Linked DNA regions of Homo sapiens. The protein of the gene in region 2 binds, or shares a complex with, the protein of the main gene of each other region. Each region holds a gene or a part of one and is shown on either strand. Other genes may lie near its edges.

Region 1 (6,592 bases), on a different chromosome or scaffold from region 2:
AATCATATTGTCTTTCCCGCACATCCTGAGCCATTGGGAACTTTCTTTTTCTTCCAGGTGAAATCAGGTAAAAATGAACTCAGCGAGGGCTGCTTTGAAGGGAAAAGGAATTCACACTTGGGGACCTACCACCTTCCCTGCTGGCTGCCTTTCTAAATTACTGCCCATGACTCCTTTCTTTTGAAAACCAGTATAAAGCTTGTCAGCCATCAGGCAGCACCCCTTATCCCTAACCTATTAGGAGTTACACACTGTCTGTCTACAAAGAATATTAAAACGACTGCCGCCCCCTGCATCTTCTCACTTTGGTTGATTAAATCCCCTTATAACTAAGCTTTGCATTGAGCTTCTCTTTTTATTAGACTCATGGCGTAAGAGTGTCATGACTAAATTTGTTGCCTGTTGGTAATTTGGGGGTTTGTTAATGGTGCACTAATTCCTGAATGTTAGGTACATCTGGTATTCAGATGAAGTATGTCATGCATTCCAAGGGCAAGAAAGTTCCATAATTCATGAAATGTAGACCAACTTTTAAGAGCATCTGAAAGAATGTGAAGAAGAGCTTGGTACTTACTGCCTCTTAACCAGTTTTTCAGGATGCCACATTCTAAAACAACTCTTCGAAAATATTGCTCTGTATACGAAGCTTGGACTCCTTCAGAACTACTTTTGTTGTAAGCATAAATGTTTAAAGGAATTTATTATTAATAGTATTAGCTACTCTTTGAGTGCTTACTACGTGCCAGGCAACGTGTTAAGCGCTTTATGTATGTCAACTTATTTATCATTATAACTACCCTAGAAGATGGCTATACCCTAGAAGATGACCCTTCGTATAGCTGAGGAAAGTGAGGCTCAAAGTGATTAGGTAATTTGTCCAGAGTCATACAGATAATAAGTGGCAGAAGAGGGATTTCTACCCAGGTCAGATTGACTTTAAACTTAGTTCTTGGCAGTTTTGCTCTATTATCACCTTTTTCCTCCTAAGGAAAGATATTTTTTCCCCTTTAATTATAGAAGTAATACCAGTTTGTGGGTTTAAAAATGGTGGGGGGAACAAGTCAGAAGAATATAAATAAGAAAGTAAAAATCACTTCTAATCTTACCACCCAGAGAACCATTATTAACATACTCCTTCCAGGCTTTTCCCTTATATATTTGTGAGCATGTACACAAATGTATCTTAATGTTAAAATAGGATTCTTGTGGTATTTATAATCTGCTTTTTTTCCACTCAGATTTCTTTTGAGAGCCTTTCCATTATCTGTTTAGCTCTGCATCATTTTAAAGGCCTACAAAACATTTCATTATATGGCTATACTTTAATTATCCCCTATGGATGGTCAAAGTGATTTTTAACAGAAGAATACAGGCATCTGCTGTTATGACCTGGGCTAAACAACATTTAGTAGCTTGGATGAAAAATTGGTGTTTTTTTAATCTTCCAAAAAATTATTTAGAAGCAGTAGTGTATATCTTGAATCTCAAACATAGTTTTAACATCTCGTGAATAATTCTAAATTCTTAACAATGTTCATTTTTTAGGAGCTGTTGGACAAATATCTTATTCCCAATGCTACACAACCAGAAAGTAAGGTGTTCTACTTGAAAATGAAAGGAGATTATTTTAGGTATCTTTCTGAAGTGGCATCTGGAGACAACAAACAAAGTAAGTAATATCTTTAAAAAGAAATTCGACCAGTAATGGAGCCAGTCTTCTTTCACAGGGACTTTTTAACGATTTTTGCTTTGTTCGCCATAGACACCAATGTCACAGTACTAAGAATTTAAAAGACCACAGCATTGTGACGAACGGGGTCATGGGCGGGCAAATAAAAATTTATCTGACAGGGAAGTATGGAGGGCATTACAAACCTGGTGCGCAGTGTATTTAAAAAGATCTTATCTTGAGTATTATTTGTTAGCTCTCTTTTTAGCAGTGAACTTTTTATACTTGGTGGTACGAAACTACCCTAGTGATGCATTGCATTTATCACATGTATTACCGTGATGGTGGTAATCTTAACCACACTTTATTAAGTGCTTCTGTGCCAAGTACTTCCGAGTCTCACTTACTCTTCACACAGCCTTACGAGTTAGGTGGCAGGCTGCCCATTTTTCATATAAACTGAGGTTTATGGAGGTTTCTACTTGCCCCAAGCCACAGACCTAGGGAGTAAGAGTTGGGAATTAAAGTTTGGATCTATCGACTCTAAAGCCTGTGATGTTTGCACTAGAATGTATGGTTTTTCACATTCTATATTGTTAAAGGTTATAGCTGTATTTAACTGCTTTAGTAGACTTTGTCATAATTGTTTTCCCCCAAAGCATTTAATATACAACTTGGTTTAGAATAAATATCTAACAAATGTATAATTGAATGGCAGAGACACTGACACTTCATTTGATAGGTCATTGCTCCTGCCCAGTTTGGGACTGAGAAAATAATTTGATAGTTGGTCCAATGTGTGATACCTATGAAAGAACCGAGCCTTTAATATTTTCATCTTTATGTTACAGCCACTGTGTCGAACTCCCAGCAGGCTTACCAGGAAGCATTTGAAATTAGTAAGAAAGAAATGCAGCCTACACACCCAATTCGTCTTGGTCTGGCACTAAATTTCTCAGTCTTTTACTATGAGATTCTAAACTCTCCTGAAAAGGCCTGTAGCCTGGCAAAAACGGTGAGAAAGACCCTTTGTGATATCTAACCATAGCAAAACAGTGCTTGTGTTATTAACTTCATTTTATTCCTGAACATACTCATTGTCTTGGACTTTTTTTGAAAGATTTTCTGGGGGTGGGAGTGTATCTTTTATGAGATAAATACAGATCTGTTACTTTTTTAATTCATTCTCAATACCTTCTGCTGACTTTGTTTGATTACTGTTTTTTGCGGGTGGTTGTAGAAAGTTCCAGGTGAATGTAGTTAGTTGTTTCTTACCAAGCTTTGGGCCTTGGTTATACATTGTCATTCTCATGCCAAGATTTGAGGTTATAGTTGTATAAAAGAAATACACAGCACATTCTTGTTGTGTGTTGGATTACCTTCCATATTCTTCCTTTGGCCTTCTCTACATATTTTTTATAGTCCCTCAACATGCACACAACTTTTTAAAAACATTTTTATTCGGGAAAGGTGCCTTAAAGTTCCGTCACTTAAATCAGATTTAGTGATGTGAGTTTCCAGACATTTTGAGTTTTAGTTTAAATAAATAAATAATTTTAAATAGAAGATTGCTAGAAAAGTCTTTGGTAATTAAAAAATCACACGCGTTTGCCCAGAATGACTGTGCTAGGGTTAGCAGTAATACTGCTTAGTTATTAGGTACAGCAAAGTTCTTACCTTGGAGTTTCTGTCATTGTTGGTTGGTGCTTTGTAAATATGCCTTATACTTCTGCTGGAAACAGCTAACAGACAGGGTAATAATAGCCTAGGTTCCCCCAAAGTACTGTACAAGAAGATAAGTTATATTCACCTAGCGGGAAAAAAAGTGGGCTAAACTAGCTCCAGAGAACTTGTGAATTCTTTGCTAAAGGCTCTTTGTTTTAGGCATTTGATGAAGCAATTGCTGAATTGGATACGCTGAATGAAGAGTCTTATAAAGACAGCACTCTGATCATGCAGTTACTTAGGGACAATCTCACTGTAAGTACTACTTCCACAGGGTTTATAGTCTCTTTCCTATTCACCTACTTAATAATTCACTGTTATCTTCAAGAGGGGATTTGTACCATTAAATGTAGTTACAGTTTTAAGTTGTTAAATTTGTTATAAATGACTGCTGAAGTTTTGACCTTTGCAATCATCCCTGTCTGCAGTGACACAGGAATAATTTTAAACTGTCGAGTGAGATAAGATTATACATACTGGGCCACTTACCTAGGGAACTTTTAGTAGCCCTGCTTTGATTATACTTCCTTTCTCTTGCAGCTGTGGACATCGGAAAACCAGGGAGACGAAGGAGACGCTGGGGAGGGAGAGAACTAATGTTTCTCGTGCTTTGTGATCTGTTCAGTGTCACTCTGTACCCTCAACATATATCCCTTGTGCGATAAAAAAAAAAAAAAAAAAAAAAAGAGAATCGTACGTCGACTTTCGATTTTTCACAGCCTCAGCCTAGGAAAAATGGTTCATGGGATAAACAGCTGGTATTTGTATCTAAAACTCAGATTGGTCACATAAATGCCACGGCATTCCGAAGTTTTGATTTTGATTAACATTGACAGGATTACTGTGTGTTTAATTTTTTAAAAACTGAACACTGTGATTATGGGGTTTTGTAATTTAGCAGAACTCTTACTGGTAGAAAAAATAGACCTGAATTATGTGTAACTTTTTGGAAGGTTTAATCTGATATCAAAATAATCATTGAAATACAATTCCATTGTAAAGTTGTACAGAAAGTTATAGAGATTATATTGTGATGCTGGAACTTGGAGTGAGACACACATCATTTGGCATTTGAGTTGAATGGTAATTCACAGTAATGCTGCCGTTGTTCGGGACTTAAAGACACTTGACCTGTTTGGGCTGTTGCCACTTAAAAGTTCATGACCACAAATGTCCACAGTGTCTTCCTCTGAGGAAACTCGAATCCTGAAATGGAAATTCTTTGTGGCAGATAACTGGCTTATGACACCTTGAAAAGTTCAAGTGCTCATATAACACACCACACTGAACCCCCTTTCCTACAGCAATATGTTCACTATGTTACCAATTTGCAACTTGTGCTTCAATAGTGGAATCTACTTTCATTGTTAACACTGAGCTAAAGAAAAAAAGCCGTGTGTTTTATGAATGACCTTATCTGTTTCCTGGATAATACCTTTAAGAATAATGTCCTGAGTCAGGCGTGGTGGTGCGTGCATCTAGTCCCAACTATTTGGGAGGCTGAGGCAGGAGGATCGCTTGAGCCCAGGAGTTTAAAGCTGCAGTGCCCTGTGGTTGCACCTGTGAATAACTGCACTCCAGCCTGGGCAACATAGCGAGACCTCATCTCCAAAAAAGAAAACAAAAAACAAAAAAAGGAATGATGTTCTGTAGAGATGGCCTTTCACTTGAGGAGTACTCAGTTTTCAGGTTCTTCCTAGCTCGGGGCTTTTAAATTTTGAAATCTAAACATTCTTTCCCACCATCCTTTTTGACTGTTGACCTTGGTTTTCTCTTCTAAGTTTCTGTCCCTCTGCTTCCTTACTTTTTTTCCTTTTTGAATTCTATCTTTATCTGTCTTTTGTTCACTTTTTAATGCTATATATGGGCAGGGGTGAGAGACATTACTGAGCACCTTGGTGAGCAAGCCTGGCTTTAAAGATTGGAGAAGAGCTTCTGGCACCAGAACCCTGTCTTCCTCCAGTTCTCAACACGGTGTTGCTCTTCAGTCATACCGGAATCTGAATCAAAAAAGTATTTTTAAATATCCATGATTTCTCCCTGTATTGAGGCTAGCCCTGATCATGCTTTTTGTGCCTGTCACCAGGTCTCCCAAGTGCACTCATCCAGGTCAGTGCTCAGATGTGTTTAAGGAGACCCTATATTCAGGGAAGTTGCGTGAACACTGCAGTGGGGAGAATTGAGAATAGTCAGGCCTATCAGTCTCACAGAATCACCCCTCTACCTTTGATATTCCACTTAGCTGTAGAGTCCATCTGTTTGTCCATCTGCTGAAATGAGAAAAGAAAAATTTATGCACTGATTTAAAACAAACCAAAAAAAAAGAAAAAAACAAAAAAAAAAATCCCTCCTTTCTAGCTGAACAAAAATGTGCAGTTAATACTTGGCGCTTGAAAATGCAGTAGTGAATGTGGAACCAAGCCTGTCTGTATATCTGGTAGCTCTTTTCTTGCTTTGTTTTTTCTTACCAGTATTCTGCCTAACGTTTGCTTCTGTGATGGTTATATTGCCTAGCAAGCACACCCGTGGTTGTGAAAATAGTATAGCAAAAAAGAAAAATCCCCGGTTATTGATGTACTAGATTTGTGTATGTCTTTTAAACAGTTCTAGTTTCACCTTACACAGAATAATCAGGAAAAGTGTAAAAATTCAAAAGTGAAATAAAAATTTTATCAGTTAGTTGCCTGTGAATTGATGTGTCACCACCATCTCTGTTGTTACCAGACCTAGCTAACTATTCTGATCACACTTATTTTTAACTCTGTTTTCTTTAAAAATAGGCAAACAGTTTTATTTCATTATTTAGGACCAGAAGTCAAGGTGTTATCCAGGGGAAGAAATTACCATTAATTAAACAGCCTCTTTACACCCGTTACTTGATACCTCTCTACCTTCCACAACAAACCATGCAGGTATTAGGTCCTCTTTAGTGACTTCTAAGATTTGGTATGGACAGTTATTTTGCATTGTATTCGAGCCCACCATCCCTTCCCCATTTTTTAACTCTGAGATACAACCAAGCCAGTGAAATAGGTAACCTATGGTTGCATAAGTCTTGGTCATCACCAAGCTGGCGTCTCACCTGTCCTCACACTGTATGGTGGCCTGCAGAGCTGGTTCCTCACAGGATTTGCCCCTTCTGAAAACATCCACATTACCACAAGGAGAGAAAAATATCAGGATAGAGGGGTCTTTTTT
Region 2 (8,128 bases):
TGCACCCTTGTAATCCCAGCTCCTCAGGAGGCTGAGGCAGGAGAATCGCTTGAATCCGGGAGGTGGAGGTTGCAGTGAGCTGAGATCACGCCACTGCACTCCAGCCTGGGCGACAGAGCAAGACTTGGTCTCAAAAAAAAAAAAAGAAAAGAAAAGAACAAGGGTGGTGGGAACTCAGAAATAACCTGGAGAACTTGGGGAAGATGTCATAGGTGGGACTTCAAGGACAGGTGGGCTTTCCCAACAAGGAAGGGCAGGCTGGGTGAAGAGCCCTGAGGACCAAGACTGGAAGGCAGAGAGGATGTGACATCAGGTGGGATGGCTGGGGACAGCCAGGTATTCACACCACAGTTAGGATCTTGTCTTGCATCTCCATGGACCATGAACAAGACTTGTTTGTACAGAGGCTGTAAACTGCTGGCTATAGTAACAGAGGCTAGAGAAGCAGCAAGAGCGTGAGCCAGCTTACATGTACATGGCTGTGCTATTATCTGGGCAATGGTGCCCTGAACAGGGGGTGCGGCGCCTGTGGTCCCATTACAAGTGGCTCACACTTCTAATCCCAACACTTTGGGAGGCTGAAGTGGGAGGATCACTTTGGCCCAGGAGTTTGAGGCTGCAGTGAGCTATGATTGTGCCACTGCACTCCAGGCTGGGTGACACAGCGAGACCCTGTCTCTAAACACAGGAGAAATCAGAATCTGTGGACGTCCTTGCATTTATTGGACACTCTAGTGTTTGGATGTTTTGCATTGTGCAGTCAGGGTTTGTCTTTTCAGCGGTTAGGCTTCTAGAGGTGTTATTAAGCCCTGGAGGAGGGCAGAAATGAGATGCAGATGCCTGTTGAGGGGCAATTCATGGCTGGGGAAGGAGGGATGTTGGGTGAAGGAGAGAATTCACTCATAATCTTCCCACCCGCTCAGATCCAGCTCAGAGGAAAGTCCCTGAAACCGCAGGAGACAACTCTGATGTTTTCAGAGCATGGGGAGAGCACGGTGGGGTGATCTGGAGACACGGCCAGCAGAGACTTGGAGCCAAGATTCCTGGATCCCCAACAAATCACTGAATTCAGGCCAGGCACAGTGGCTCATGCCCGTAGTCTCAGCACTTTGGGAGGCCGTGGTGGAAGGGTCGCTTGAGCCCAGGTGCTCGAGACCAGCCTGGGGAATATAGTGAGACCTCATCTTTACAACAGCAAAAAGAAGAAGAAAGAAAGAAAGCACTGAGTTTGGCCCTCAATTTTACAGGTAGTGAGACAGATCGCCAGTAAGACAGAGAGACAGAGATCTCCCCAGTGTTACTCATGGAATTAGCAGCAGAGCAAGGATCAATTCCGGTCTTCACCTGAGCCAGGGTCCCCGGAGCCAGGAGGTCCCAAGCCAGAGGCGAGGGCGGAGCTGACACTTCCTATCCAACCTCCTCCACAGCACCCCACCCGCTCCTCTTAGTCTCATGCCCCTTTCTTCAAGCATCCCCCAAGTCTCCAGGTACCCAGTGTGGGGGTTCAGAGATGCTAGGACACAGTCTTGCCTCAATGGCCTACGGAGGAATAGGGGGAGAAGCCAGACAGGCATATAGGGGTAAGTAATGATCCTGTCAGCCTCTGTACCAAGGGCCTCAAAAGACGGTTAACTGCCACCTGAGAGCTGGCCACGGTGGCTCACGCCTGTAATACCAGCACTTTGGGAGGCTGAGGCAGGTGGATCACTTGTGGTCAGGAGTTCAAGACCAGCCTGGCCAACATGGTGAAACCCCATCTCTACTAAAAATACAAAAATTAGTCGGGCATGGTGTTACACGCCTGTAATCCCGGCTACTTGGGAGGCTGAGGCAGGAGAATCGCTTGAGCCCGGGAGGCGGAGGTTGCAGTGAGCTGAGATCATGCCACTGCACTCCAGTCTGGGTGACAGACTGAGACTGGCTCAAAAAAAAAAAAAAAAAAGAGGGCCACTTGGGGATGGCTCTCTGAAGCAGGGCAGAGCCCCTCCAAAGGAGGGAGAGTGGGGTGAGCATCAGAACCCCCTTTCCTAACCTGGCAGGGATGGGCAGAGAGAATGCACATCCTACAGAGGGCAGCAGGGAGGATGGAGCAGAACAGCTGGGGCTCCTGGGAATGTGATGCGAACATTTGGCAGAGACAGAAGATACCCGGCCAAGGGAGGTGGGTGGAAGGGCTGGCCTGTGAGCAGCCTTGGATAATCACTTTCCTCCCACAGCCAGTGGCTGGGGCCCTCAGGGCACTGCCATTGTGATCCTAGGTGCTGTGTGATCCTCCTGTGGGCTGGAAGAAAGTGCTGCATGTCAACCTTTTCCAAGGCTGCCACACATGGGAAACCACCTCCTCCGCTTTCCCTAACATGACCACACACAGGATACCTGTCAGAAAGCCAGCAGAGCTTAGCATGTGCCTACAACTCTTTCCTGTCCCCACCCACTAGGGACATCCTTGGGGGAAATCTGGAAATCTACTAGACCAGGCTTTGCTGCTGCCCCTCAGAGATGCTTGGGTGTGTTTTTGCTCTCCTGTGCCTCTGAACCCATCTTTGAGGCTGTTAGTTAAACGCTCCAGTGAGGTGTCAGGTGTGAATGCCTCAGTCTGGTTTCTGTCCTCAAGGTGAGAAAAGAGGCTTCAGAAGCAGAAAGGCCATGTACAGTGGCTCACACTTGTAATCCCAAAACTTTGGGAGGCTGAAGCAGATTTCATCTCTACAAAAAAAAAAAAATTAGCCAGGTTTGGTGGCATGAGCCTGTAGTCCCAGCTACTAGGGAGGCTGAGGTGGGAGGATCGCTTTGGCCCAGGAGTTTGAGGCTGCAGTGAGCTATGACCGTGCCTCTGCACTCCAGCCTGGGTGACAGAGCGAGACCCTGTCTCTAAAAATATATAAATAGGCTGGGCACGGTGGCGCATGCCTGGAATCCCAGCACTTTGAGAGGCTGAGGTGGGCAAATCGCTTTAAGGTCAGGAGTTTGAGACCAGCCTGGCCAGCATGGAGAAACCTCGTCTCTACTAAAAATACAAAAATTAGCTGGGCATGGTGGCGGGCACTTGTAATCCCGGCTACTCAGGAGGCTAAGGCAGGAGAATCGCTTGAACCAGGGAGGCAGAGGTTGCAGTGAGCCGAGATCGTGCCATTGCACTCCAGCCTGGGTGACAGAGTGAGCCTCCGTCTCAAAACAATAAATAAATAGAAGTATATAGATAAATAAAAATACAAAGAAGCAGGAACAAAAGCTGGACCTCAGTGTCAGTGAGAGAAGGGGCTCAGAGCTCCTGGGTAGATGCCTGCCTAGGGGATGTCCACCTTCCAGTGAGCCACCCATCCCTACCAGTAACAGTCCCTCGAGGCTCCCCTTGGGCCTCTCTGTGCAGGTGAAGTAATGATCACAATTTTTTTAATATATATTTTTTCTTAAGTATTTTATTTTGTTTTTGAAACAGGATTTCACTGTTGCCCAGGGTGGAGTGCAGTAGGGCGCGATCTCGGCTCACTGCAACCTCCACCTCTTGGGCTCATGTGATTCTTCCACCTCAGCCTCCCGAGTAGCTGGGATTATAAGCCAAGCACGCATCGTCACATCCGGTAATTTTTGTATTTTTAGTAGAGAAGGGGTTTCTCCATGTTAGCCAGGCTGGTTTCGAACTCCTGGCCTCAAGTGACCCACCCACCATGGCCTCCCAAAGTGCTAGGATTGAAGGCGAGAGCCACCGCGCCCGGCCACCGTGTTGGCCACCATGTTAACTAGAGGTGTTAGCAACCTCCTGTGGGCCAGGCCCTTCAGGGGCATTACCTTGGGCTTACCACATCAGGCCCCTGAGAGTTGGGGGCTTCTACCTATGTGGAGGACCCAGAAGAGCTAATATGGGGGGCGGGGGTTGGAGGTGAAGGGCAGGAGTTAGGTGAGGGGAGATGGTGATCTCTGGCCTCACAGGAGGGTGCCCCTGAAAGAACAAACCCCAGGTCCTGAGGCGCTTTCAGGCTCAGGTGTGATAGGGGACCCTTTTGTTGTGGAGACAGGGTCTCACTCTGTCATCCAGGCTGGAGTGCAGTGGCGCGATCTCCGCTCACTGCAGCCTCAACCTCTTGGTCTCAAGCGATTCTCCCACTTCAGCCTTCGGAGTAGCTAGGACTACATGCACACGCCACCATGCCTGGATAATTTTTGTATGTTTGGTAGAGACAGGGTTTTGCCATATTGTCGAACTCCTGGGCTCAAGGAATCCTCCCACCTCAGCCTCCCCAGTAGCTGGTATTACAGGCTTTCTCCACTATGTCCGGCTAATTTTTGCATTTTTTTGGTAGAGATGGGGGTCTTGCCATATTGCTCAGGCTGGTCTCGAACTCCTGACCTCAAGCCATCCTCCCGCCTTGGCCTCCTAAAGTGCTAGGATTACAGGCAAGAGCCCCTGGCGTCCGGCCTGACCTTTCTTAATATCCCTTTGGAGCAAAGTAGGGGCGGCTCTATCAGGACTCCAAGGAAAGACGGGAAGGGAGATGGGGCCAACCCGCCAGAGCTCCAGAGCACCGGGTTCTCACCTGGCGTAAGGATTATGCTAATACAAGCCCCGCCCCGTCCCAGGCCCCGCCCACCCGATCGGCCTATGGTGTGGGGGCGGGGCTATGTTAATGAGGCCCGGCTGGCCAAGAGCTGTTCCCCGCGCTGCGCGGAGCAGGGACCAGGCGGTTGCGGCGGCGACAGCCATGGCCGGCGCGCTGGCAGGTCTGGCCGCGGGCTTGCAGGTCCCGCGGGTCGCGCCCAGCCCAGACTCGGACTCGGACACAGACTCGGAGGACCCGAGTCTCCGGCGCAGCGCGGGCGGCTTGCTCCGCTCGCAGGTCATCCACAGCGGTCACTTCATGGTGTCGTCGCCGCACAGCGACTCGCTGCCCCGGCGGCGCGACCAGGAGGGGTCCGTGGGGCCCTCCGACTTCGGGCCGCGCAGTATCGACCCCACACTCACACGCCTCTTCGAGTGCTTGAGCCTGGCCTACAGGTGAGGGCGGTTCCGGGCCCTGACGGCCTTGGCTTCCAGGTGGGGATGGGGGGGGGGTCCGGGGCAGGACTGCGCGCTGGGGCCCTCAACACCCCACCCGAGCCCGGTCCTGCGGCTCCCGGAGGCTCCGATCACGCCCTGGACACCCCCTTTCTCCCAGCCCCGAGGTCCTCCTACAGCGGCCCAGCCCGCTGGCCCCTGACGGACCCACGCATTTCTGATTCCCATTCCTCCCCCATTCCCTCTTCCCCGAAGCGCAGACCGCCTGCGCCCCACCTCTACCTGGACCTCTGGTCCCCTCTCTCTGGTCCCAGCCCCTCCGTCCCTACAAAAATGCCAGGCGCCCCTGGTCCCTAGGCCACCCGCGCCCATCCCCACTCTCCACTCTGGAGCCACTCCACCCGACCCCCTGCAGGCCTCGGCCTTCTCCCCAGCAGCCCCGGCCCAAGCCCGCCCTATTCCTGGACCCTGAGATACTCCCAGCGCCCCTGATTGTCCCAGTTCATAACCAAAGTGGACTGGAACTGGCCCACTCTCACGTCCACCTCCCCGCAATTGCTGAGACACCTCTTCTTGATCTGCTACATTAAGGGTGGCGGGAGGAGGATGTCCCAGAAATGTCCAAGAGGCGCAGCTCGCAGAGGTTACGCCGGTGCCCGGGAGGCCTGGGTTCGCCTACCCACGTCGCCACACTAGGCTGAGCGCCCGTCGCTGCCTGGGACCCCCGCTTAGTGCCACCGAGAGCGCACAGGCCGCGCCCCGCTGCCGCTCCACGCCCCGCGTCCCAGAGGAGGGCGCGAACCCGAGGCCTGGCCCAGTGCCCTGGAGCAAAGTTCCCCGGAGTTGAGGGGCCAGTATAAATTATCAACCGAAAACCCGTAGGGGAGAAAGGGGGATCGGCCGGCCTTGATCTTTTCTCTGTGCAAATATTCCTCTTCCTCCGCGGCGCCTCCTCCCCTTCTGAGAACCGCTGGCTACAGATCGGCACCTGCCGCCCTGCGGGGGAGCAGGAGCTGGGGTGGGGACTGTGAGGGGAGTGTTGCCTGCCCCCAACCGCAGCCGCCCAGCTGCGACCCCATTGGCTGGAGGCGGAGTAACCTTGGCCCACAAGCTCTGGCCCCTGGCCCAGGTCATGTTGCAACCCGATCGGCCAGGGCGTCGGACCCGTGTGGAAAGTTCAAATTCCCGTCCCTTCTCCCTCCCTCCCCAAATGTCACGCGACTGCCTGGGACAGGGCATCTAAGGTCCTGGTACACCGGATGCCGGCACTCCTCCTCCTAAGGGTCTCCCATTTCCCACCCAACCCCAACTTTGGCTGCTCATTATATACTACACATCACTCTATTTGGGAGGGGGCCTCACTTCCAACCCTGACGATGGGTGACCAAAGAGGAGAGGTTCTGGGGAGCTGGCAAGGTAAGGGACAGAGCGCACCCCCAAAATTGCCCCCCCACCCAGAGGCTGACTCAAGGCTGATGTAACCCCAGTCAGAGATAGCTGGGGTAGAGAGGACTGTGTTTTCTTCCCAAATACCCAAATATTAATAGTAAATCTCTGGCTGGGCACAGTGGCTCCTGCCTGTAAGCCCAGCACTTTAGGAGGCCAAGGTTCTCATCCAAGGATTGCTTGAGCCCAGGAGTTGGAGACCAGCCTGGGCAACATACTGAGAACCTGTCTCTACCAAAAAAAAAAAAATTTTTTTTTTTTTTTGAGACAGAGTTTTGCTCTTGTTGCCCAGGCTGGAGTGCAGTGGTGCCATCTCAGCTCACTGCAACCTCTGCCTTCCGGGTTCAAGAGAATCTCCTGCCTCAGCCTCCTGAGTAGCTGGGATTACAGGCGCCCACCACCTCCAGCTAATTTTTTGTATTTTTAGTAGAGACGAGATTTCACCATGTTGGCCAGGCTGGTCTCAAACTCCTGACCTCAGGTGATCCACCTGCCTTGGCCTCCCCAAGTGCTGGGATTACAGGCATGAGCCAACATGCCTGGCCAAAAAAAATTTTCTTTAATCAGCCAGGTGTGATGGCACATTCCTAGTACCAGCTACTGGGGAGTCTGAGGTGGGAGGATCACTTCAGCCCAGGAGGTTGAGGCTCCAGTAAGACATGATGGTGCCACTGCACTCCACCCTGGGTGATAGAGTGAGACCTTGTTGGAAGGAAGGGAGGGAGGGAGGGAGGGAGATGGGGGGAGGAAGGAAGGAAGGGAGGGAGGGAGATGGAAGGAGGGAGGGAGATAAAGGAGGGAGGGAGATGGAGAGAGGGAGATGGAGAGAGGGAGATGGAGGGAGGGAGGGAGATAGAGGGAAATGGAGGGAGGGAGATGGAGGAGGGAGGGAGAAGGAGGGAGGGAGGGAGATGGAGGGAGGGAGACGGAGGGAGATGGAGGGAGGGAGAGGGAAGGAGATGGAGGGAGGGAGGAAGGGAGAGAGGGAGGAAGGGAGGGAGGGAGGGAGATGGAGGGAGGGAGGGAGCTGGAGAGAGATGGAGGGAGGGAGGGAGATGGAGGGAGGGAGGGAGATGGAGGGAGATGGAGGGTTGGCTCGGTACCAGGAGAGCTTCTAGATTTCCCCATTTGGTAGTGGAAAAGCCCTGAGGCTTGAACTGGGACAGTGTTTTCATCCTCAAAGACCCCCAGTTCCAGGGGTCCCCTGGAGGGGAGCAGATTACAGGAGCTGAGTGTCCCAGGGGAGTGACTATATGGGAAGAGACAGTAAGGCAGAGAGTTCAGAAGGTGGTGGGAAGAACAGCGAGCTTGACCAGGGACCCACCTGAATCAGGGACCAGCCTGACCCAGAGACCAGCCTGCAGAGGCCTGGCAAGGTTTCACCCTCTGCAGGTTAGCGTGGGCAGAGGGAGGATCGAGGAGGCCGTCTTCCATGGCTCCGTGGGTGGAAGCCCCAGGGAGGTAGTTTCTGGAAGCTTCAAGGAAGCACTTGTTCATGGTCAGAGCTGGCTAGCTTTAGGAAGAGTGGCCTTGAGGGTGCAGGGGAGCAAACAGGACCTGGTTAGGGGGCAATCTAAAAGGAATTCCTGAAAGGTGGGAGGTGGGCAGCTGAACTTGGGGTTTTCTCAACCCCCTCTCTAAGTCTCAGAGTTTTCTTCTCCTTCTTATTATTTATTTATTTATTTATTT

Evidence for each region.
Region 1: the proteins of MLXIPL (region 2) and YWHAB are in contact, whole or in part, in a crystal structure (PDB 6YGJ), measured with the Homo sapiens proteins. Residues at the interface, in NP_116569.1 of Homo sapiens: Asp118, Ile120, Arg121, Asn124, Ala125, Trp127, Arg128, Ala129, Trp130, Tyr131, Ile132, Tyr134; in NP_003395.1 of Homo sapiens: Gly55, Arg58, Ser59, Trp61, Arg62, Ser65, Ser66, Gln69, Lys70, Arg129, Val178, Tyr181, Glu182, Asn185, Leu218, Gln221, Leu222, Asp225, Asn226, Leu229, Trp230.

What each region holds. Positions count from the first base shown.
Region 1 is NC_000020.11:44,902,448-44,909,039, forward strand, and holds the end of YWHAB (14-3-3 protein beta/alpha), read left to right. Parts: intron 1-450; coding exon of another isoform or gene 451-471; exon of another isoform or gene 472-1,545; coding exon 1,546-1,669; intron 1,670-2,520; coding exon 2,521-2,684; intron 2,685-3,553; coding exon 3,554-3,649; intron 3,650-3,934; coding exon 3,935-3,991; 3' UTR 3,992-6,085; downstream 6,086-6,592. UniProt on the Homo sapiens protein: Adapter protein implicated in the regulation of a large spectrum of both general and specialized signaling pathways. Binds to a large number of partners, usually by recognition of a phosphoserine or phosphothreonine motif.
Region 2 is NC_000007.14:73,621,065-73,629,192, reverse strand, and holds the start of MLXIPL (carbohydrate-responsive element-binding protein), read left to right. Parts: upstream 1-4,670; 5' UTR 4,671-4,700; coding exon 4,701-4,993; intron 4,994-5,128; exon of another isoform or gene 5,129-6,409; intron 6,410-8,128. UniProt on the Homo sapiens protein: Binds DNA as a heterodimer with MLX/TCFL4 and activates transcription. Binds to the canonical E box sequence 5'-CACGTG-3'. Plays a role in transcriptional activation of glycolytic target genes. Involved in glucose-responsive gene regulation.